Regions from separate parts of the Homo sapiens genome. Here all the other regions are linked to region 3. The links come from fine-mapping of genetic effects on gene expression. A gene starts in region 3. Each other region holds a variant in brackets. All regions are shown on one strand. Distances are from middle to middle.

Region 1 (6,995 bases), 110 kb before region 3:
CCTGTAATCCCAGCACTTTGGAAGGCTGAGGCAGGTGGATCACCTGAGGTCGGAGTTCGAGACCAGCCTGACCAACATGGAGAAACCCCATCTCTACTAAAAATACAAAATTAGCTGGGCATGGTGGTACATGCCTGAAATCCTAGCTACTTGGGAGGCTGAGGCAGGAGAATTGCTTGAACCCGGGAGGCAGAGGTTGCAGTGAGCTGAGATAGTGCCATTGCACTCTAGCCTGGGCAAAAAGAGCGAAACTCTATTCAAAAAAAAAAAAAAAAAGACAAACCATATAAATGTTAGCCTCTACCTATAAAAGCAGTGAGCCAAAAGCAGCACTGCATTCCTGGAGAGATTGCAGAAATTAGTTCCACCACTAATCAATGATCTGAAAGACACAGAGCTGATGATTTCCATTCAGCTTAGCTCTCTAGCCTGTGCAGATCCAAGATGGATCCAAGAGAATGGCGTGGATTATTATAAACTCAATTAGGTTGTGACTCCAATTGCAGCTGCTATTCTAGGTGTGCCTTCATTCATGAAGCAAATCAATGCATCCCTTGGAGCAAAGTATGCAGCTATTGATCTGATGAATGCTTTTTTCCTCAGCAATTTTTAGTAAAGACCATCAAAAGCAGTTTGCTTTGAGCTGACAGGGCTAGCAATACCTATTCGTTATCCAAACTCAGGACTGTATCAATTCGCAGTCATCTGTCATCATCTAGTTTGTGGAGACCTTGTCCTCTTCTCTACTCCACAGGACATCACATTCATCTAATGTGTTGATAATATGCTGATTAGAAGTAGTAACTATTCTAGCCACCTTGACGAGATATATGTATGCCAGAGGGTGGGAAATAAATCCCACAAACATTCAGTGAACCTTCTGGGGGGCCTAACGGTCTGGGGCATGTTAAGCTGGGCCCTACTACCACTAAGAGGCACAATGCCCAGTGGTTTTGGATTTTGAAGGCAATGTATACCTCATTTCAATGTTCTTCTCTGACCCATTTTCTGAATAACTTAAAAGGCTATCAGTTTTGAGTGGGGCCCAGAAGAAAAGATGACATTGTCATGACAGTTCCTGACTTATGAAGGTTCAACTTAATTTTTTTTACTTCAGCAATGATGCGAAAGCGATGTGCATTCAGTAGAAGCTGTATTTCGAATGCTGGATTTTGATCTTTCCCTAGGTGAGTGATATGTGGTGCGATGCTCTCTCGTGATGCTGGGCAGCAGCAGTGAGTGCAGCTCTGCCAGCCACAGGATCACTAGGCTGGATGACCAATATTCTACAGTGGGCTGTATGGACGGATCACTTTGCCCAACTGTAGGCCAATGTAAGTGTTCTGGGCATGTTTGAGGTAGGCTAGGCTAAGCTATGATGTCCTGTAGGTTAGGTGTATTCAGGGCATTTGCAACTCAGGATATTTTCTTTTCTTTTTCTGAGATAGGGTCTCACTTTGTCTCACCAGGCTGGACTGCAGTGGTGCAAGCATGGCTCTCTGCACCCTCGATCTCCTGGGCTCAAGCCATTCTCCCACCTCAGCCTCCCACGTAGCTGGGACTACAGGCGTGTGCCTCCATGCCTGGCTAACTTAAAAAATTTTTTTTTTTGTAGAGACAATGTCTTGCTATGTTGCCCAGACTGGTTTCACACTTCTGGGCTTAAGTGATCCTCCAGCTTTGGCCTCCCAAAGGGTGGGGATTACAGGCATGAGCCATTGCACCTGGCGAAATTTTTATAATTGTATGTTGTCTCAGCATCTGTTTTAAATACAGGTTAGCCTTTCTCATATAAAAAGCAGGACTCAGTCACCCTTGACACATTGTCCAGTTCTCCACCTCCTCCTAGCTCCTCAGTGTGATCAATCTAGATACCTGCCTTATACAACCACCTCCTGATGACCACTTCCCTGTGGACACCTAGATACTACATATGTGACTTGCTCCAACCCCCTCGCCCCACATGGACTGCCCAGACATGCTGCAGTGACCACCTCTGAGTCACAGCATGACCCCATGATACTTGTGCCTGCTTGCTCTAAACTTACCAGTTAGAACTCCTATCGGATGCAGTGGCTCACGCCTGTAATCCCAACACTGTGAGTGGCCAAGGTGGGAGGACTGCTTGAGACAAGGAGTTTGAGACAGCCTGGGCAACATAGCGAGACCTTGTCTCTACCAAAAATAATTTAAAAATTAGCTAGGCATGGTGGCGCACTCCTGTGATCCCAGATATTTAGGAGGCTGAGGTGGGAGGACTGCTTGAGCCTGAGAGGTAGAGGGTGCAGTGAGCTGTGATAGCGCCAGTGCACTCCAGCCTGGGCAACAGAATGAGACCATTTCAAAAAACCAAAAACCCGCTGGGCATGGCAGCTCATGCCTGTAATCCCAGCACTTTGGGAGGCCGAGGCAGGAGGATCACCTGAGGTCAGGAGTTTGAGACCAGCCTGGGGAACATGGCAAAACCATGTCTCTACTAAAAATACACAAATTAGCCAGGTGTGGTGGTGGGCACCTGTAATCCCAGCTACTCGGGAGGCAGAGGCATGAGAATCACTTGACCCTGCAAGGCGGAGGTTGCAGTGAGCCAAGATTGCACCACTGCCTTCCAGCCTAGGTGACAGGGTGAGACTCTGTCTCAAAAAAAAAACAACAACAAAAAAAACAAAACCAAAAACCAACCCCCCCCCC[A/CA]CCAAAAACAAACAAACAAACAAAAAAAACAAAAACTCCTCTCAGGAAACCTGCTTGGGTAATGGCCTGGACCCAATACAGACATTAGCCCTCAGGCCCCTTGCTTTCTCTCTCATTCCCTGCTCCCCAGCTAAGCACGTGTGTCCTGGCCAGCTCTCTCCCCACTGGCCCTGAGAGGCGTGCTGCCCTCTTCTCTGTAAGAGCTCTGTAAGCAATACACTGCTTCTGTTACTTCATGTGTTTTGCTGTGTTGCCTCCTCTGCAACTCACCTGACCATCATACCTGAACCCAACTCTCATTCCATAGAGGGTTCTCCTACAGAGTGGCTATCTTGGTAGGAATAAACTGGACACAAGTCAGACAAGAGCCACACAGGTGTCTGCCAGTATCAACAAGTTTCCTGTGAGACGGACACCTGGTCATGGGTCTGACACTTAGGAATTAGGCCATCTGCCAGATAATGAAGTATCCTGTCAATGGCGCACTGCAAACATCCATGGCCAGCTCTCCTGGGGCCCTGGAGTCAGGACAGGGCTAGAGTTTACAGCCACTCTCCAGAAAGAGGCCTCAAGATGAAATCAGAAGAAACACAATACTATCTTCTGCAGGTAACTATTCTCCTTTTGAGATACAGCTTCGAGCATGTCACTTGGCCCTAGTGGACACTAAAGCCCTTGGCTGTGGGCCACCAAATTATCAAGTGTCCTGAGCTAAGCCTAAATATCATTATTTATTAATGATAAATTAAATTGGGTATTATATGACTCATCAAGCCAGAAAGTTGCACTCCATCTACTTAATGATGGAGTCATTATGAAATGGAAATGGTATAAATGAGATTGGGTCTGAGCAGGTCCTAAATGCAGAAGCAAGTTCTCTGAGTAACTACTCCTGCTACATTGCCTATTCTCTCTCAACCCACATCTATGGCCTCATGGGAAATCACCTATCACCAGTTGACCAAGGAGGTAAAAATTAAAAAAAAAAATTCAAGTCTGGCTGGGCACGGTGGCTTACATTTTATAATCTCAGCACTTTGGGAGGCCCAGCCGGAAGGACTGCTTGAGCCCAGTAGTTCGAGAACAGCCTGAGCAACATGGTAAGATCCCACCTATACAAAATAATAATAATAATAATAATAATAATAATAGCCGGGTGCAGTGGCATGCACCTGTGATCCCAGCTACTTGGGAGGCTGAAGCAGGAGGACCACTGGGGCCTAGGAGGTTGAGGCTGAAGTGCAGTGGTGATCGTGCCACTGCACTTCAGCCTGGGCGACAGTGAGACCCTGCCTAAGGAAAAAAAAAAAAAATTCAAGTCTGGTTCCTTGTTACAGATGTTTCTGCATCACATATTGTTATAACCCCACTCAAGGTGGTCCTGAGAACAGTGGTCAAAGGAAATCTTCCGAGTGGGCAAAACTTTGATTGGTGCATGTGGTTGCTCATTTTACCTAGAAGGAGAGATGGTCAGAGTTGTAGCTCTACATTAGAGAAACATGATTGGAAAAGGGTAAAAGTTTGAATGCTTTGTCATTAAAACTGGGAACAAGTGAAGGGTGTCTACTCTCACTACTTCTATCCAACATTGTATTGAAGGTTCTAGTCAGTGAAATAAAGCAAGAAAAAGAAACAAGTACAGTGCTATGGCTTGAATGTCCTCTCCAAAACTCATGTTGAAACTTGATCCCCAATGTGGCAGTGTTGAGAGGTGGGGCCTTTGAGGGTGATTGGATCAAGAGGGTTCTACCCCCATGAATAGATTAATTCATAGATCAGTATATTAAAGGGTTAATGAATTAATGGGTTATCATCAGAGTGAAACTAGTGACTTTATAAGAGGAAGAGAGACGTGAGCATAGCACATTAGTACGTTCAGCCCCCTTGCCATGGGACACCCTGTGGCCACCTCAGGACTCGGTAGAGTCCCCATCAACAAGAAGGCTCTCACCAGATATGCCCCCTCAACCTTGGACTTCTGAGAACTCCATAACTATAAGAAACAAATCTTTTTTCTTTTTTTCCCTTTAAAAATGTGTATAAATATAAGGGATACAAGTGCAGTTGAGTCACATGAATATACTGCATAGTGGTGAAGTCTAAGCTTTTAGTGTCACCATCACCTTCTTTTTCTCTATAAATCACCCAACTTCAGGTATTCTGTTATAAGCAACAGAAAATGGACTCATACATACAGACTGGAAAGGAAGAAGGAAAATTGTCTTTATTTGCAGAAAACATAATTGTGTATATAAAAAACTCTAAGGAATTTATCAAAATAAGCTATTAGAACTAATAGAAAGATTGTGGGACAGCTGGGCGCAGTAGCTCACACCTGTAATCCCAGCACATTGAGAGGCTGAGGCAGGTGGATCATTTGAGGTCAGGAGTTCGAGACCAGCATGGCCCATATGGTGAAACCCTGTCTCTACCAAAAATACAAAAATTAGCCGGGCATGGTGGCACATGCCTGTAATCCCAGCTACTCAGGAGGCTGAGGCAGGAGAATCGCTTGAGCCTGGGAGGCAGAGTTTGCGGTGAGCTGAGATCGTGCCATTGCACTCCAGTCTGGGTGACAGAGTGAGACCCTGTCTCAAAATAAATAAATAAATACATAAATAAATAAATAAATAAATAAATAAAAGAAATAAAGATTGTGGAATACAAAGTCAACATAAAAACTATTATATTTCAGCTGGGCACAGTGGCTCACACCTATAATCCCAGCACTGTGGGAGGCCAAGGCGGGCGGATCACCTGAGGTCAGGAGTTCGAGACCAGCCTGACCAACATGGAGAAACTCTGTCTCTACTGAAAAATACAAAACTAGCCGGGTGTGGTGGCACATGCCTGTAATCCCAGCTACTCAGGAGTCTGAGGGAGGAAAATCGCTTGAATCCGAGAGGTGGAGGTTGAGGTGAGCTGAAATCTCCTCCGTTGCACTCCAGCCTGGGCAAAACTCTGTCTCAAAAAACAAACAAACAAACAAACAAAAAAAACCTTTTATATTTCTATATACTAGTATTGAAGTATTGGAAATTGAAAAATTTAAAATACCACTTGCAACGGGACCAAAAATCAGAAAAACACTTAAGGATAAATTAAACAAAATCATGCAAGACCTATACACTAAAGCTAAAAAAATGGCTGAGAAAGTTAAATGGAGGAATAAATAAATAAGAGATATGCTATGTTCATGAATTGGGAAGACTCCATATTGCTAAGACATCAATTCTCCCCAAATTAAAGATTCAATGCAGTCCCAATCAAAATCTGATCAGGCATTTTTTTGGGGTAGAAATTGACAAGGTGACTCTAAAATGTATATGGGAACACAAGGGACTCAGAACAGGCAAAAAACGTTGCAAAACAAAAAACCAGGTTGGAGGACTTATATTTAATTGATTTCAGTACTTACTTTATAGCTACACTAATTACTTTATTAGCTACACTAATCAAGATAGGGTGAAACTGGCATAAGGACATATAGATCAATGAAACAGAGTCTAGAAGTAGGCCCACACATATATGGTGAACTGGGTTTCAACACAGTGCAAAGGCCTTTAGAATGGGGAGAAAAAGATAATCTTTTCAACAAATTATGTTACAGCAACGTGATATCTATATGGGGAAAAAATGAACCCCTATCCTTACCTGATATCATATATAAAAATTAGCTCAATATGTATCATTGATATAAGTGTAAAAATGAAAACCATAACATTTCTAAAGGAAAACATAGACCTCTGTTATGTTTGGATAAGCAAAGATTTCTTAGATAGGACACAAACCATTAAAATTTTTTTTTTGATGCACTGAACATCATCAAAATCAAATATTTGTATTCTTCAGACACAAGTAAGACAATGAAAAGGCAAGCCTGGAACTGGAGAAAATATTTTCAAAACATATCTGAATAAAGGGCTTGTATCCAGAATATATAAACAATTTAAATAATAAAAAATAATTTTTTTTAAATTTAAAAACGGGCAAAATATTTCAAAAAACAAGTCATAAAAGAGAAACAAATGGTCAATAAGCACATGAAAAAATGCTTAACAAGACTACTCAACAAAGAAGTACAAATTAAAATCACAATGAGGCCAGGCACAGTGGCTCACGCCTGTAATCCCAGCACTTTGGGAGGCTGAAGCAGGTGGAGGATTACCTGAGGTTAGGAGTTCGAGACCAGTCTGGCCAACATGGCGAAACCCTGTCTCTACCAAAAATATAAAAATTAGCTGGGTGTGGTGGCACATGCCTGCAATCCCAGCTACTTGGGAGGCTGAGGTAGGAGAATCACT
Region 2 (6,995 bases), 44 kb after region 3:
CACGGAAAGAAACTAACAACAACAGAGCAGAGGAAGGGTCAGCAAACTGTGGGCCCATGGACCAAATTTGACCTGCTGCCTGCTATTGTAAATAAAGTTTTATGGATCCCAGACATACCAGACATTGTTTACAGAAAAGCTGAGTAGTTGTGACAGAGACCATATGGCCTGCAAAGCCTATATTAAGTCTTGCCCTTTAGAAAAGTTTGGCAACCCTTGTAATAGAGCATCAAAAGCTATCAAACAATATATTAAATGGCATGTTGTATGTATAACTGGAGTCCCAGAAGGAGAGGAGAATGAGAATGGAGCTTGACTAAATATTTGAAGAGAGAATGACTGAACACATCTTCATAAAACTCATGAAAGACGTCAACCCACAGATTCAAGAATAAAAATAACCCTAAACTACATAAATACAAGAAAGGCTATACCTAGAGATATCATCATCAAGCTAGAAAACAAAGGCAAAAAGATCTTAAAATCATCCAGAAAATACAATCAGGTTACATTTAGGGGAAACACAATAAGAATTGTAGCTGATTTCTCACTAGAAACAAAGGCAGCTAGAAGACAATTGAAGAACCACTTTAAAGGGTCTCAAGGAAAAATTCTGTGAGCTTAGAAGTCTATATCCAATAAAAATGTCATTCAAAAATAAAGGCCAAATTAAGGCATTTTTAGACAAACGAAAGCTTAAGGAATTCATTGCAACACTATAAATAGTACTAAAGGAATTTCTGAGGCCAAAGGGAGAGAATCTCAGATGGAAGCCCAGACTACCCAAAAGAAATAGAAAGGACCAGGAATTGTAAATATGTGGAAAATATAAGAGATTATCTTTTGTTTTTTACTTTAAAAAACACTTTTGGCCATTTAAAGCAAAATAATAAGCATGTGGAAGTAAAATATATAATAACACTAGTGCAACAGGCAGAGAGAGATCAATACAATTACACCGTTGCAAGTTCCTTTGATTATCTGGATGCAAGTGATGGTTACAGGTGTATGCATTTGTAGAAATGTATCAAGCTATAGCTTAGGATTTGTGTACTTCACTATATGTTAATTAGCCTGCACTTTAGTAAAGTACTGTTACCAAAGAAAGAGAATGGACACGACAGAGCTCTGTAGCCAAGTCAGGACTCACAGATGGAACAAATATTTATGTTTGTCACGGGAGAGTCAGGGCCTCCTGCTTGGCAGAGGCTGCTGAGAGCTGAAGATGGGGTTGGCTGGGGCTCAGCCCACCTCCTGCATTGCCGAGGAGGCAGCGTTTTCCTCTGTGACTGACTCCTGCTGGAGCCTTGGCTTTGTGGAGATCTGTGACAGGGCTTGGCCCATGAGATGAAGAGCCCAGAGGCCTGGCCTTCCTGTCCTGAGCCTGGTCCGCTTCTGGGGACCCTCTCCTACGGTGGAGAAAACCAGAATGTCATCCTGGAAGGGACTTCTGATTCAAGTACTTGATGGCTGCCATTTTATAGAGATGGGCTCTGGGGCTCAGAGTGAATACATTCTAGAAACTGGACTGGAAACCAGATCTCCTCTTTATACTGTAGCAGCTGTCTTGGGCCCATTCAAGCTTGTCCTTCCTAGGTCCACAGGTATTCCTCTCTCTGCTCTTTTCTTTAAAATCCTCATGCTACTAATGCTAAATAACTGCTGATAAAACTAATTCATACTAAAGTGTGAGTGACTGATTCCCTGTTAAAGTCTCCCCAAGAAAGGCATGCGTAGTAACCATGTCCAAGAAACCATTCTAATGGTGTGATCCCATTCAGCACCCAGGCTGAGGAGAAATGTTTTGGGATGAAGCAGGCAGAGGTGAGAAAGGGTTGCCAGTCTGGAGCTAGCATGGTGCAGGAGAGAAGGCAGGGTTCTGTCTTTGCCCGAACTCATCGGCTCATCTTGGCCACATTCTCTGACTTCCTTGGGTCTGTTTCTTCTGCTGTTAAATGAAGGCTGGACACTCAGATAGCCCAGGGCCCTTTAGCTCTCATGTCCCAGGCCTGTTCACTTACAGCCTTCTGGAGCTTTTGCTTTACAATAAGCAGTCCTCTGATCATCACTGGCTCTCACAATGTTCTTAGAAGCAGATTAGAGGCTTGGGTGTGTGGGTCTCTGTGTCACAGGTGAGGAAATGGGGCAGAGAGGGCAGGTCAGTGGCCCGGGGCCACTCTGTGGGATGCCACTGCATTCCTCCTCCTCCCCCAGCTGCCTCATGAACGGGGCTAAAGAAGCCTCCCCTTCCTGACAGAACCCACTGCTTCTCTGGTCAGCCCAGGACAGTGGAGCCCTCCCTGGGCAGGGGTGGGGGTGCAGAGCCAGCCCCACTCAAGTCCCCACGGGAAAGTACGGGGCCCCTGCCAGAGGAGCCCTTCCCTTTCATTCCTCCCCAATAGGAGGCCACCCCCAATGCCTTCACCAGCTCCCAAATGCCTCTCACCTCTGCACCTTCGAGCCTTTGCCCAGGAGCCCCCTCTGCCTGGATGTCCTTCCCTTCTTCTCTGCCCAGCACACTCCCACCAAAGCGGCCCCCCAAGGCAGGATGCAGCTCATGCTCCCAGTGGTGGACGGCTGTTCCGATCTTACCTAAGGGTTTCGCTTGCTGCCTGCAGCCTCCTCTGGGGGAAGGAGCATGTCTTGTCTCTCCTGTCCACCCACTTCCCAATGCACGGTTCCTGGCATGCAGCTGGGTCAGGACACGCGTTCTGAGCGCTTCAGAGGGCTGGTGAGGCACAGTGTCCCTGAATGTCCTCAGAGTCCAGGTCTGGCCCAGCCACATTCTTGAGGATGGGAAGCTAGAGAGGTAGAAATATCTC[C/G]GCTGAACGCCCAGCTGGTCACATAAGAGCTGGGGAACTGGACACTTCACCTAATGCCTCCGAGCCTCACCTTAACATGGGAGCTCAGCTCCTCCTCTGCAGCCTGTGGTAGTGAGCAGGTGAGGTCGTGTATGTGAAGACTTAGACCACATATGCCTGGGACATAGGACATGCTCAACTTCTTCCTGTTAATCCTCCTCTTACATCCGAGGGACCCTGGCCAGGCCACCCGGCGTCCTCTGTTTTCTCAAGGTCAAGGAGAATAATAGCCCCAGCACTGCCCAGCCCCTAAGGGATGGTGAGGGTGCAGATGGTTCATGATGACAGTTCCTGGGAGCTACAGGAGAAGTGAGGAGGGCTGGTGGGCCTGTGGCAACTTCCCACAGCTCACAGGAGGGCTGGAGCTGACCCGGCTGCTCCGCTCTGCTGCAGAAACAACAGCTGCTGCTCCCTGGGCTCAGGGCTGTGTCTGCAGTAGCCTGGGGACACCAGAGCCCCAACCCAGTGGAGCCCCTGCCCTGCTGTTCTGTGTTCTCCAGTGCGAGCCCCAAGCTGGTGTGCATCTCTCTTGCTTTAGGGATATAAAACTGTTTCATTTCCAAAATAAAGAGAACAAAGCCTCCTTGTGGCAACAATTATGCAGTCATAAGAGGAGGCTTAATGGGCGTTCATTAAGAGTTGCACTCAGGGAATGACAGCTCTGACAGCTGCCAGTACTGACTGTCGTAGAGTCATGGCGCTGTTCCCTGAGGGAGCATCACCCCCTCCCCTGAGCTGCAGCTGCTCCTCCGGGAATGGGGCTCACAGGAAAAAAGACCCAAGAGCAGACCTCTGGAGCCGCCAGAGCTAGTCTGGTCTCTCAGAGCGGCCTCGGATGGTGTGTGGCCACATTTGTGGCACTTGCTGTCTGATCAGAGAAGCAATGAACATATGCCAGGCCGGGATCTCACAGGCATCTAGGCTGGTCTGACAAATCCTTGGCCACATCTGACCACGTCTGTGCCCGTCATGCTGTGTTTGTTCCTACTGAGCCAAGGCCGTATCAGAATTCTTCAAATAGCCCTCCAGACAGCCAGGCTAGGGTGGCCAGGGAGTGGTGACTGGCTCTACATTCCCCATAGAGTCCATTTCGCCTCATCCCTGGATGGATGTCACCCTGGGACCCAGAAAGGGGTGTGACCTGAGGAACAGCCATTGCCAGATCCCGGTGCCCTCGCACCCTGGCGTGGTTGGGTCTGTTTCCACAGCTCACTTGTCCATGGGGAGAAAGCAGTGATTCAGGCCTGGCTGAGGGACTTGGACAGACACTCAGGATCTTCCTCCTGAGCCCTGTTTCCTCTTGCTCAGGAGAGGAGTTTGAATTGCTCCCTCATTCCCCTAGAAGTCCATGTAAGCCCATGCCACTGCCAGGTGGAGCTCCAGGCTCATGATTCAGGAAGGCCAGAGCGCCATACGCCCCTTTATTCCTGTCCCAGCTGTGTCTCTCCTGGTTGATCTGTGCCTCGAAAGCATAAGGATTCATCCGTTTTAGTCCCATGGATGGAAGCCGGCCCCTCTGCATAGAGTGGCACGGGGCAGGAGTTTGAACACCCCTAGGAGTATGGCACAGGTCACCTGTGGGGTGAAGACATAAGTGTGTTTGCAAGTGGGTGGGTGGCTGGGAACTGGAGGATTTGGCTGAGCCAAAGATGGGCTGGGTTTGCCCATCTTAGGGTTGTTGGCCTGGAGCTCAAATTGCTCTGTGATGGAGGAGGGTGACTCTGGAGCTCTCCCAGGCAAGGGCAGGGGCAGAGGGACAGAGAGAAGAAAGGGACGTGAGAAAGACAACACACAACCCCTTCCATGAGGCTCGCTGGATCTTCAGTCGTGTGGTTGGAACTCCGGGAGATGTCCCCTGAGCCCGGGAAGCAGGATAGGTCAGGAGAAGGCCCTAAGGAAAGGCTTTGGATACTACCTGTGGCCACACTCTCCTACAGGCCAAGGAGAGACAGACAGAGAGGGGCTCTGGGCAGCCAGTAGCACTGAACTCTCAGGGTCGAGGTCTGGGGCAATATCCGGGCTCCACTTTCATTCCGTAATGGCAACATAATAGAGTGCAGAGTGCTGGCTAAAGAGTGGGTAGCTTCCCTGGTTCAAGGCCAGCCTCTGGCAGCTGCCACTTTTTTTCAGTTGAGCAGTGGCCAACCTGCACAACAGGCCCCTTACCACATGCCAACACTGGGTACAGCCTGTGTGGAGGGGTCTTGGGAACCCGAATGTTGAATGCACCCCTTTGCTCTGTCTCTCGCTGGGGAACCCTCACTGGGCTGTCTTGGTTTGTGCTCCGTTCACTGGGCCAGCTCCTCCCTATGCCCCCAGCCCAGCCTTGGCACTGCATCTGGAACTCAGATGGGGGATGATCGCAGCTTTCAGGAAACTGCCCAGTGACAGGACTGGGCATCGTGCAGGGGGTGACTCATGTTCTAGTCTGTAGTTTTGACAGAATGCTTCTAAAAGTTTCCTGAGAAAAGGTGCAATAGAAGAAAGGATGTCTGCAAATGTCTTTAATGCATCCCCACATTTAGCCGAATGAGTGGCTGCCGTATTCAACGACGTCTGAGCTGCAGACAGCTGTCTCCAGAGGGGCTGGTGGGTTGACCCCTTTGGCTTCCAGTTGCTAGGCAGCTCCCCTGACTTCGTGGATACCCCCCTCTCCCCCACTCACCACCTCTGCTGCAACATCCTGTCACTCAGGAACTCCAACAATCCAACCCCATCTCTACTAAAAACAAAAAATTAGCTGGGTGTGGTGGCAGACGCCTGTAATCCCAGCTGCTTGGGAGGCTGAGTCAGCAGAATTGCCTGAACCTTGGAGGTGGAGGTTGCAGTGAGGTGAGATCGCGCCACTGCACTCTGGCCTGGGCAACAGCCTAAAACTCTATCTCAAAAAAGAAACTCCAGCAATCCTCACAAACAAACAAGATAACAGGCAAAGAACATGCTAACAAACGGCAGCTTTGATGACCAGGAAAGCGCATGGAGCTCCCATTCCAGGAATGTATTTTAACTGGACGTGCCTCCTTGGGAAAAAAAGAACAAAAAAGAAACTCCTAGTAAGAAAAAAAGCCCCGCCCTGCTTCTGACAGACTCAGCTCTGGCAGCAGCTGCTCCTGTTTGGAAAGACCTACATCCCAGGAATATAAATTTTTTATTGTGATTTTATTTTATTTGTTGATGCAGAGGGTTTTTATTTTATCTTTTGAACCAGTAGCAGCAGCGGGAGAGGGAGAAATGGGGGAGCTGCAAAGCTGGCTGGGGGTGTTCTCCCTCCTCTGCTGGGGGTGGAGATGACACCTGAGCCCCCTTCGCTGGGCTTGCTGGCCACACAGGCTCCTGTCTCTGCCATGGTGTGGGGACTTGTGGTATTGGGAGGGAAAGAAGAAGTAAAGAGGGGGTGGGGGCAGAGGGGCAGGGGTGTCCAGGGGTGTTTGGCCCAGAGCAAACCCCTGGTGCTCCCACATTCCGGGTCCGGGTCATCTGCTAGGACAGGCACAGTGGGAGGGGTGTGCCCCCTGCCCATCCTTGGGGAGGTTCGAATGGACTAGATCCAGTCCAACCCCCCAGCTGCAGTGGAGGAAGCAGAGGCCAAGTCCCTGCGGAAGCTGCCCAGGACCCGCTGAGTGGCGACCTCGGGGGCAGTCACCCTACATGCACCCAGGACTGAGGGTATGCGCGCTTCTCCTGTGCTGCCTGGGAAATAACAGGAAAGACCACGGGCGTCCACCCCCAGGGAAAAGGGTGAAGAAAGTGCGGGGCCCTGGCTGGGTCTCTCTGGGTGTGCAAGGAGAAGCCGAGGCGTCACAGGAACCCAGGAGGTGGGGAGGATGCAGAGCAGGACCTATTATTCCTATCATTAAGTATCGATTCTTATTTATGAGAAAACAACAATTATCTGGTGCCTGAATATGATTATGAATTTTAAAAGATCCAGAGGAGTACCCGAGAAATTGTTCATGATTATTAGGGAAAGGGAAACATTTTATCTTAGACATTAGGTATGGCTTGAAGTGTATTTTTTTGGAGGGTGACATGTATTATTTTTATTAAATGGTAGTAGCTGAAGTGGTTACCTCTAGAAACAGAAATTTGTTTTGTGGGAGGGTTAGGTGGTTAAGAGACATATTAACACTGCCT
Region 3 (6,995 bases):
AGGTTGGGGCATACAGGATGGTCTGGGGTTAAGAGTCCCAGGGACTGAAAGGCTGGTGGGGGGCGGGGTACATCTGGAGAAAGGTGGGGTGTGTGGCCTGATGGGGGTCTGTCCCAGTGGGCCCTTAGGGGAGGGAAGGCACCGTTGTGAGCTGCTGGAGCCCCAGCCCAGGAGATCTGGTGGCACCATCTCACCTCTCAGGCCTGGAGAAGTGTCTCCATGGCTTCCAACTAAGGTCTCACAGCCAGCAATGGGACAACAGTCTTGCCCTTCTTTGGAAAAGGTGGATCGCTTCCATGGCTAGGTCCTTTCCCCATGGCCCCTCTTCCCAAGGACATCCCTCCAGGGCACCCTCATTTGGGCTATCTGTCTTAGAATGCTCATGTGTATGAGTGCACTGTTGCCTGCTGCCACTGTCCCTCACGGCCAATGACCTTGTGCCAGGTACTGGGGACAGAGAAGGGATGTCCACTCTGATGGGCAGAGGTGATGCAACAAACCCATCAGAGAGCATCTTAGTACAGTGTGCTGAGTGTGAAAGTGGTGCCGCCTGGCGTCGAGGAACCTGGAGAATGGAGGTCCTCCCTCTGCCTGAGAGCCTGGTGACTGGTGAGTGGGCCTTGAAATGTGAGTAGGAGCCCACCAAACACAGAAGGAAGGGTGATAGGGCATCTCTATCAGAGCAAACAGCCCCAGGGAAGGTCTAGAGAGTGGAGACCCAGGGCACATTCAGAATCCAACACTGGCCTGGCGGGGCAGGGATGGAGGGCTGGGATCCAGGTTGTGCCCTGCTGCCCACTCCCCTGCTATGTGTCTGGGAAAGCTCCGGCTGCTCCTGCTGCTGGCTGTTGCTGGTCTGGGACTGAACTATGCCCGTTCCTGTGGAACAGGATGACAGTGGAAGGTCAGGTCTAGTTTGGGAAGAGCTGAAGGAAGCCTTGCTATGCTAGTAGGCTCCAATTCCTGCACCTGGCAGCCTCATGGGGCTGGTTGGAGCAGGCAAGGCCTGAAGGTGTGTGTGTGCGGGGGGAGATGGTGAGCCGCCGAGAGGAGCAGGAGCTGAGTTATGTTATGGCCTGCGTGGCCGTGGAGAGCTGGCGCACCCACGCTGCACTTGTCCATCCTGGGGTGGAGCCAGGAGGAGACAGCTGCAGTAGACGGTGACAGCCTGGGGCAGCGGTATGGATGCCAAGGCAGCTCCTGCTGCCCGGAGGGCACACATCTCCCAGGTCTGCCAGCTGTAGACTCTGTCCCTGGCTGTCCCCACCTGGCCTAGTGCCTAGCTGGCCCAATGAAAGATGCCTAGCAAGGCTTGGCACTCAGTAGACCCAAAGTTGTCACTTCTAGGAAGGCCCAGGTAAGCGTCCTCAGTGGGGACTTGCAGGGTGGGGAGGGCACACGGGCAACCCAGTCTCAGCTCCTGCAGCATCCCTTGAAGGAAGATGGGTCAGAAGACAAAGGCTGATGCTGGCTGCAGAGTCTGGGGAGCTGCTCACTGGCCCCCAGCCCAAGTGTGGTTGGAGACAGTGGAAAGGCGGTTCCTCCCGATGCCCATGTGGGCCTCTAGCAGGCCCAGACTGTGAAGGCCTTGGGAGCCCCTGGATAGGCAGGCACCTGCCTAAGTAGCTGCTCCCAGGCTCTCATGGCCACCCTCTGTCCTTCCTCAGGGAAAGAGCTACTGGCATCTCTCCATCACTGGTTATGTATGCCCAGGCGGCGCCCAGGCCCTGCCCAGCCCAGAGGGTGGGAAAGACACATCCAGGAAACTGTGTCTAGCAGAGTGGTCGGTTTTGAGCTGAAGCCTAGGGTTGGGGGTGGGAAGGAGGCTGATTGCCCTGTCCGAACCCAGCCCTGGCAGCATCCACCCCATGGGCTGTGGGCACTTGCACCTCACCAGAAGCTGGGGAGTCTGGCAGAATGACAGGGATGGGGGGATCAAGGAGGCACCTACTCCCAACACACCCCCGTGGCTGGGGGTGCTGGTCTGGGTACCTGAGACGGGGCACCTCCCACCTGAGCCTGGGGAGGCGCTAGACATTGTCCGTGGGCACTGAGAGGCCACGTGCTCTGCTCCCATGGAGGGAGCAGGGAGGAGAGGAGGTCCAGCAGGTTGGACGGGGCCTGGGGGAGCCCCACTGTCAGAGGTGGATTGGTGCTTATTTATACAGAGGATGCCTTGCAGAGTCGTGGGCTGTGAATAAGAGGCCTGGCTCGAGGCGGGGCTTATGACATTAGGGGCTCCAGAACCGGGGAAACATGCCCTCAGGGCTGCCCAGGCTGGTGCTGGTGGCGGTGTGGCAGGGAGAGTGAGTTGGGGCCCTGAGGGAGAACAGTTGCTCATAGCGCTTTGAAGGCGAGTGGGGGGCCTTAGTCTGAAGTTTCTTTTTACCCCAACCCTCTTTCCACTGTCACCCCCAGAAGGGCTTCAGTGTGTATGTGGGGCAGGACCGCAGCAGGGAGGGAGGGTCAACCCCTTCCCCCGGGGTCACTACAGAAGCGGAGGGACGCTCCTCTCTTCACGGCTGCCCCTGAGACCTGCTTTTTCTCGGAGCTGTGTGACAAAGTCCCCACCCTTTACTCCCCCACGGCAAGGAAGGGACCTCCCCTTCGCATTAGTCAAGGGGCGGCAGCTCGCCCTGTGCCCCGTACAAACCCTTGGCTGAATCGCAGTTGATGCTGTGATTCGAGTCCAAGCCAGTTTCCCTGTTACCTCCTTTGCCCTTAATGGAGGAAACTGAGGCAGCTGCGGAGACACAAGAAGCCGAAGTCCTAAGACCCAGGCTGCGAGCGCTGGCTCCGGGACCCGGGCTGCCGCTGACGGGCTGGGCCCGCGGGCGGCAGCAGGGGGCGCTCGCAGGCCGGGACGCGCCCTCCTCGCGCGGCGCTGGCCCGACGGAGCTGGTCCGCGAGGGGCAGCGCCTGGGAAAGGGTCGGGACCGGCTCCCCGCTCCCCGCTCCCCCACCTCTCCGCAGGGCGTCTCCACGGCCGAGCCGGGCGGGGTTGTGGTGTATTGCGACCCGGCGCCCCAGCCCCACGCCCGCCCTGCCCTCCCTGCGGGCTCCCGAGCGGCGGAAGGCAGAGCAGGGCGCACCGGCGCCGGGCCCAGCCCGGTTCCCCCGGGAGAAGTGTCCCGTCCCGGTGCCGGCCCGCGCGCTAGCTCCGCGTCCCGGCTCCCGGCACCCACCGACCCCTCCACAGCTGCGCGCGTCCTGCCTGGGGGCCGGAGACCCCGGCCGCCGGGCCCCTCCGCTCTCCCGAGGCGCGGCCGCCGGGAGGAAGGCAGGTAGAGGCGCTGGGCGGGGTCCGGGCGCGGGAAGTCCCGGGCTCACGCCTCCCGCGAAGCGCACCTTCAGCCCACCTCGGTCCGCCCACCGCCCCGCCTCCCGCCCGCTCCCGCGCCCGCCTCCAGTCTCCGCCTTCCTCCAGCCGCTCTCCCCGCTCCCCACTCCCCTGCAGGCGCGGCTGGGGCGAAAGCCTGCGAGCTGAGCGGGCGCAAGGTCCTCCGCGCCTCCTTTAAGAACCGGCCCAGCCCGGCCCGCGCCCCCAGAGCGTACGGCATCCGCGTGGCGGGAGGGCGCGACTTTCTCCGGTCCCGGGCGGGACGGGGACGGCGGCGGGACAACTTGGGAAACTTCTCTGGGGCGGACGGCAGGGACCCCGGGCACCGGTGGAGGAGGATGTAGGAGGGCGGCTGCTGGTCCTGGGTGTTCCCGACCTCCTAGGCCCCGCTCGTCCAGGCCATGGGGCTCCAGCGCCCTCGGCGCCGCCCGAGGGGCGACGCTCTTGTCTAGCCGAGCCGGGCAGCGCTGTCGTCCACGGTGCGCACTGGGCGGGCAGCGCTCCCTCTGCCCACCTCCCGCCCCGTCATGGACCACCAGGACCCCTACTCCGTGCAGGCCACAGCGGCCATAGCGGCGGCCATCACCTTCCTCATTCTCTTTACCATCTTCGGCAACGCTCTGGTCATCCTGGCTGTGTTGACCAGCCGCTCGCTGCGCGCCCCTCAGAACCTGTTCCTGGTGTCGCTGGCCGCCGCCGACATCCTGGTGGCCACGCTCATCATCCCTTTCTCGCTGGCCAACGAGCTGCTGGGCTACTGGTACTTCCGGCGCACGTGGTGCGAGGTGTACCTGGCGCTCGACGTGCTCTTCTGCACCTCGTCCATCGTGCACCTGTGCGCCATCAGCCTGGACCGCTACTGGGCCGTGAGCCGCGCGCTGGAGTACAACTCCAAGCGCACCCCGCGCCGCATCAAGTGCATCATCCTCACTGTGTGGCTCATCGCCGCCGTCATCTCGCTGCCGCCCCTCATCTACAAGGGCGACCAGGGCCCCCAGCCGCGCGGGCGCCCCCAGTGCAAGCTCAACCAGGAGGCCTGGTACATCCTGGCCTCCAGCATCGGATCTTTCTTTGCTCCTTGCCTCATCATGATCCTTGTCTACCTGCGCATCTACCTGATCGCCAAACGCAGCAACCGCAGAGGTCCCAGGGCCAAGGGGGGGCCTGGGCAGGGTGAGTCCAAGCAGCCCCGACCCGACCATGGTGGGGCTTTGGCCTCAGCCAAACTGCCAGCCCTGGCCTCTGTGGCTTCTGCCAGAGAGGTCAACGGACACTCGAAGTCCACTGGGGAGAAGGAGGAGGGGGAGACCCCTGAAGATACTGGGACCCGGGCCTTGCCACCCAGTTGGGCTGCCCTTCCCAACTCAGGCCAGGGCCAGAAGGAGGGTGTTTGTGGGGCATCTCCAGAGGATGAAGCTGAAGAGGAGGAAGAGGAGGAGGAGGAGGAGGAAGAGTGTGAACCCCAGGCAGTGCCAGTGTCTCCGGCCTCAGCTTGCAGCCCCCCGCTGCAGCAGCCACAGGGCTCCCGGGTGCTGGCCACCCTACGTGGCCAGGTGCTCCTGGGCAGGGGCGTGGGTGCTATAGGTGGGCAGTGGTGGCGTCGACGGGCGCAGCTGACCCGGGAGAAGCGCTTCACCTTCGTGCTGGCTGTGGTCATTGGCGTTTTTGTGCTCTGCTGGTTCCCCTTCTTCTTCAGCTACAGCCTGGGAGCCATCTGCCCGAAGCACTGCAAGGTGCCCCATGGCCTCTTCCAGTTCTTCTTCTGGATCGGCTACTGCAACAGCTCACTGAACCCTGTTATCTACACCATCTTCAACCAGGACTTCCGCCGTGCCTTCCGGAGGATCCTGTGCCGCCCGTGGACCCAGACGGCCTGGTGAGCCCGCCTGCGCTGCCCCTGTGGGGTTGGTGCGGTGGCGCCGGGGTCACCCTGCTTCTTGCCCTGCTGTGTGTGGCTGCCTCCCCTGGGCTTTCTGCTCCCTGCCCAGATCCTGTAGGCCTCATCTTAGGAACCCCTTGGGAGGGGTGGGCAGGGGGGCTGCTAGCAAGGGTCCCAGTGAAGCTTCCCCTTGCCGGCTTAGCTGTGGGGGACCCCTTCTCCACCCTCTCCCTGAGCACAGGCCGATGGAGGTGGTTCAAATCCTCTGGAACATAGCCAAGACCAGGAGAAGAGAGAGCACTTTCTTCCCAGAGCCCCATGCTCTCCAGACCAATGTCTGGGCTTCCCTTTCTTGAGGACCTTGTGTTCCTGGCAGGTCACTTGCTTGTGGTGTTTTCGTTTCTTTTTCATCTCCCCCCCACCCACAAAGAGCACGGAGCCAGCCTTCCACTTTTCCCAGTGGGGCCTGCTGCTGAGGGGGAGGAAGAAACGAAGACTGATCACCCACGCTAGGCACTCGCGGTCCCTGGCAGGCGCTGGGATGGGGGCTTATGGGGTGGCATCGTCTCTGGGCCCTCCTTTCCCCCTTTGCCTGTTTTCGGATCTGTGGTTCCTTTGAAAGCCAGAACAATGGATCGGCTTCCTTACCCAGCACCCCTCCGGTAGGTGGGTGGCCACGTGGATGCCTCGCTGGGGCGGTCTTGGAGGCCTGGTCTCTGCCTCGACGGGAGATCCCCGATCACTGGCATTCACCCCCTGCAAAAATCGGGGCGACAATAGCTCACTGCCTACTTGCTGCAGGGAGATGAAAGGCTTTGCAGAAAGCTTTGAGCTCTGTGGGGGAACACACTAGAGAACCAAAAATGTGATTATATGGTGATATAAAAATCCCTTTCCTCTGTGTTTACCACCACCTGTCTTCCTGTAGACTTTTGTTCTGTCCCTGGGGTGTGTGAATTCCTACCCCGAACTGGAAGCCGGGAGTGGCAGACAGAATCACTATTTCAAGTTAAAGGATCTCTTTGAGAATGTGTTCTTCTGGCTGCAAAGGTCTGAGTTATTACGCTACATGACAACGTTTCGACATTTCACCGGCAACACCAAGAGGGTTTTTAGTGGCTTGGGTCTCCCCAGTGGGGGATAAGTCTTTTGTCATCAAGGAGGCAAATTGTCTCCCCAAGACAGCTCAAAATATCCACACCTCGGCAACAGTCTAAGATGAGAGCCTGTGACAGGTGGCAGCGCCCCCAGGTGGGGTACTGGCATCAGAGCCTGGTGCGCCCCTAGGGGAGCCTCCCACTGGAGTGCCCGGCCAGGTCTCCAAGCCCCAAATGAGTCCTTGTGAACCACAACTGATCCCCCCAGGTGGGTGCTTGTGGACTGCCTCGGACCCAGCCACGCTGCTCCCCGCAATGCTGATGGGGCTGTGCATTGAGGACCCCTGCTTCCTGGTTCTCAGTCCCACCCCAAAACCTGGCACCCAGAACAGTTGGAAGTGTGGAAAGGAGGTTTATCGGCCTTCCCTTGGAGAGGGCCTGGCTTCAACATTGGGCCAGTAGGCATCTTAGCTTGGCAGGTGTCGGGGGAATGGGCCAGATGGACCTGCTAGATTTGGAAGGGCACCGAGGGAGTTTTCTGGGTGTAGAGAGAATGGAGGGGACCAAAAAGAGTCCTTCCTGGGGTGTGGGAGGCTTCCCAGCTTGGTCCTCAGTGGGTTGTTGAGGCCAGAGTATCGCCCTGGGATGTGGTGGGGAGCTGGGCCAGGAGAGGGACTGA

Alleles and levels. Alleles are on the strand shown, and positions count from the first base shown. SD is a standard deviation of normalised expression in the study named. Not every link is listed here.
For the expression in aorta of the gene that starts at base 3,446 in region 3, C is the high allele of the variant in region 2 and G is the other (large effect, 0.87 SD a copy in GTEx).

What was found. PIP is the estimated chance that this variant, and not a neighbour inherited with it, causes the effect.
Region 1: its variant is fine-mapped to the expression of ADRA2B in subcutaneous fat (TwinsUK, PIP 0.95).
Region 2: its variant is fine-mapped to the expression of ADRA2B in aorta (GTEx, PIP above 0.99). The same link has a PIP of 0.9 or more in cerebellar hemisphere and lung.

Annotation. Positions count from the first base shown.
Region 1 is chr2:96,226,527-96,233,521 of GRCh38, reverse strand. The region is part of intron 1 of STARD7-AS1 (STARD7 antisense RNA 1); the gene reads right to left. Among named protein-coding and RNA genes, the nearest start is that of SNORA112, 15 kb to the right of the region's middle. The variant A/CA (reference allele first, on the strand shown) is at 2,692.
Region 2 is chr2:96,068,665-96,075,659 of GRCh38, reverse strand. No RefSeq gene overlaps it. Among named protein-coding and RNA genes, the nearest start is that of GPAT2, 37 kb to the right of the region's middle. The variant C/G (reference allele first, on the strand shown) is at 2,823.
Region 3 is chr2:96,113,022-96,120,016 of GRCh38, reverse strand. It overlaps ADRA2B (adrenoceptor alpha 2B), which reads left to right and starts at 3,446. Exons shown (of 1, transcript NM_000682.7): 1 at 3,446-6,995. The coding sequence starts at 3,868. The coding sequence ends at 5,220. RefSeq lists silencers at 2,617-2,686, 2,727-3,186, 3,197-3,356, 3,457-3,546.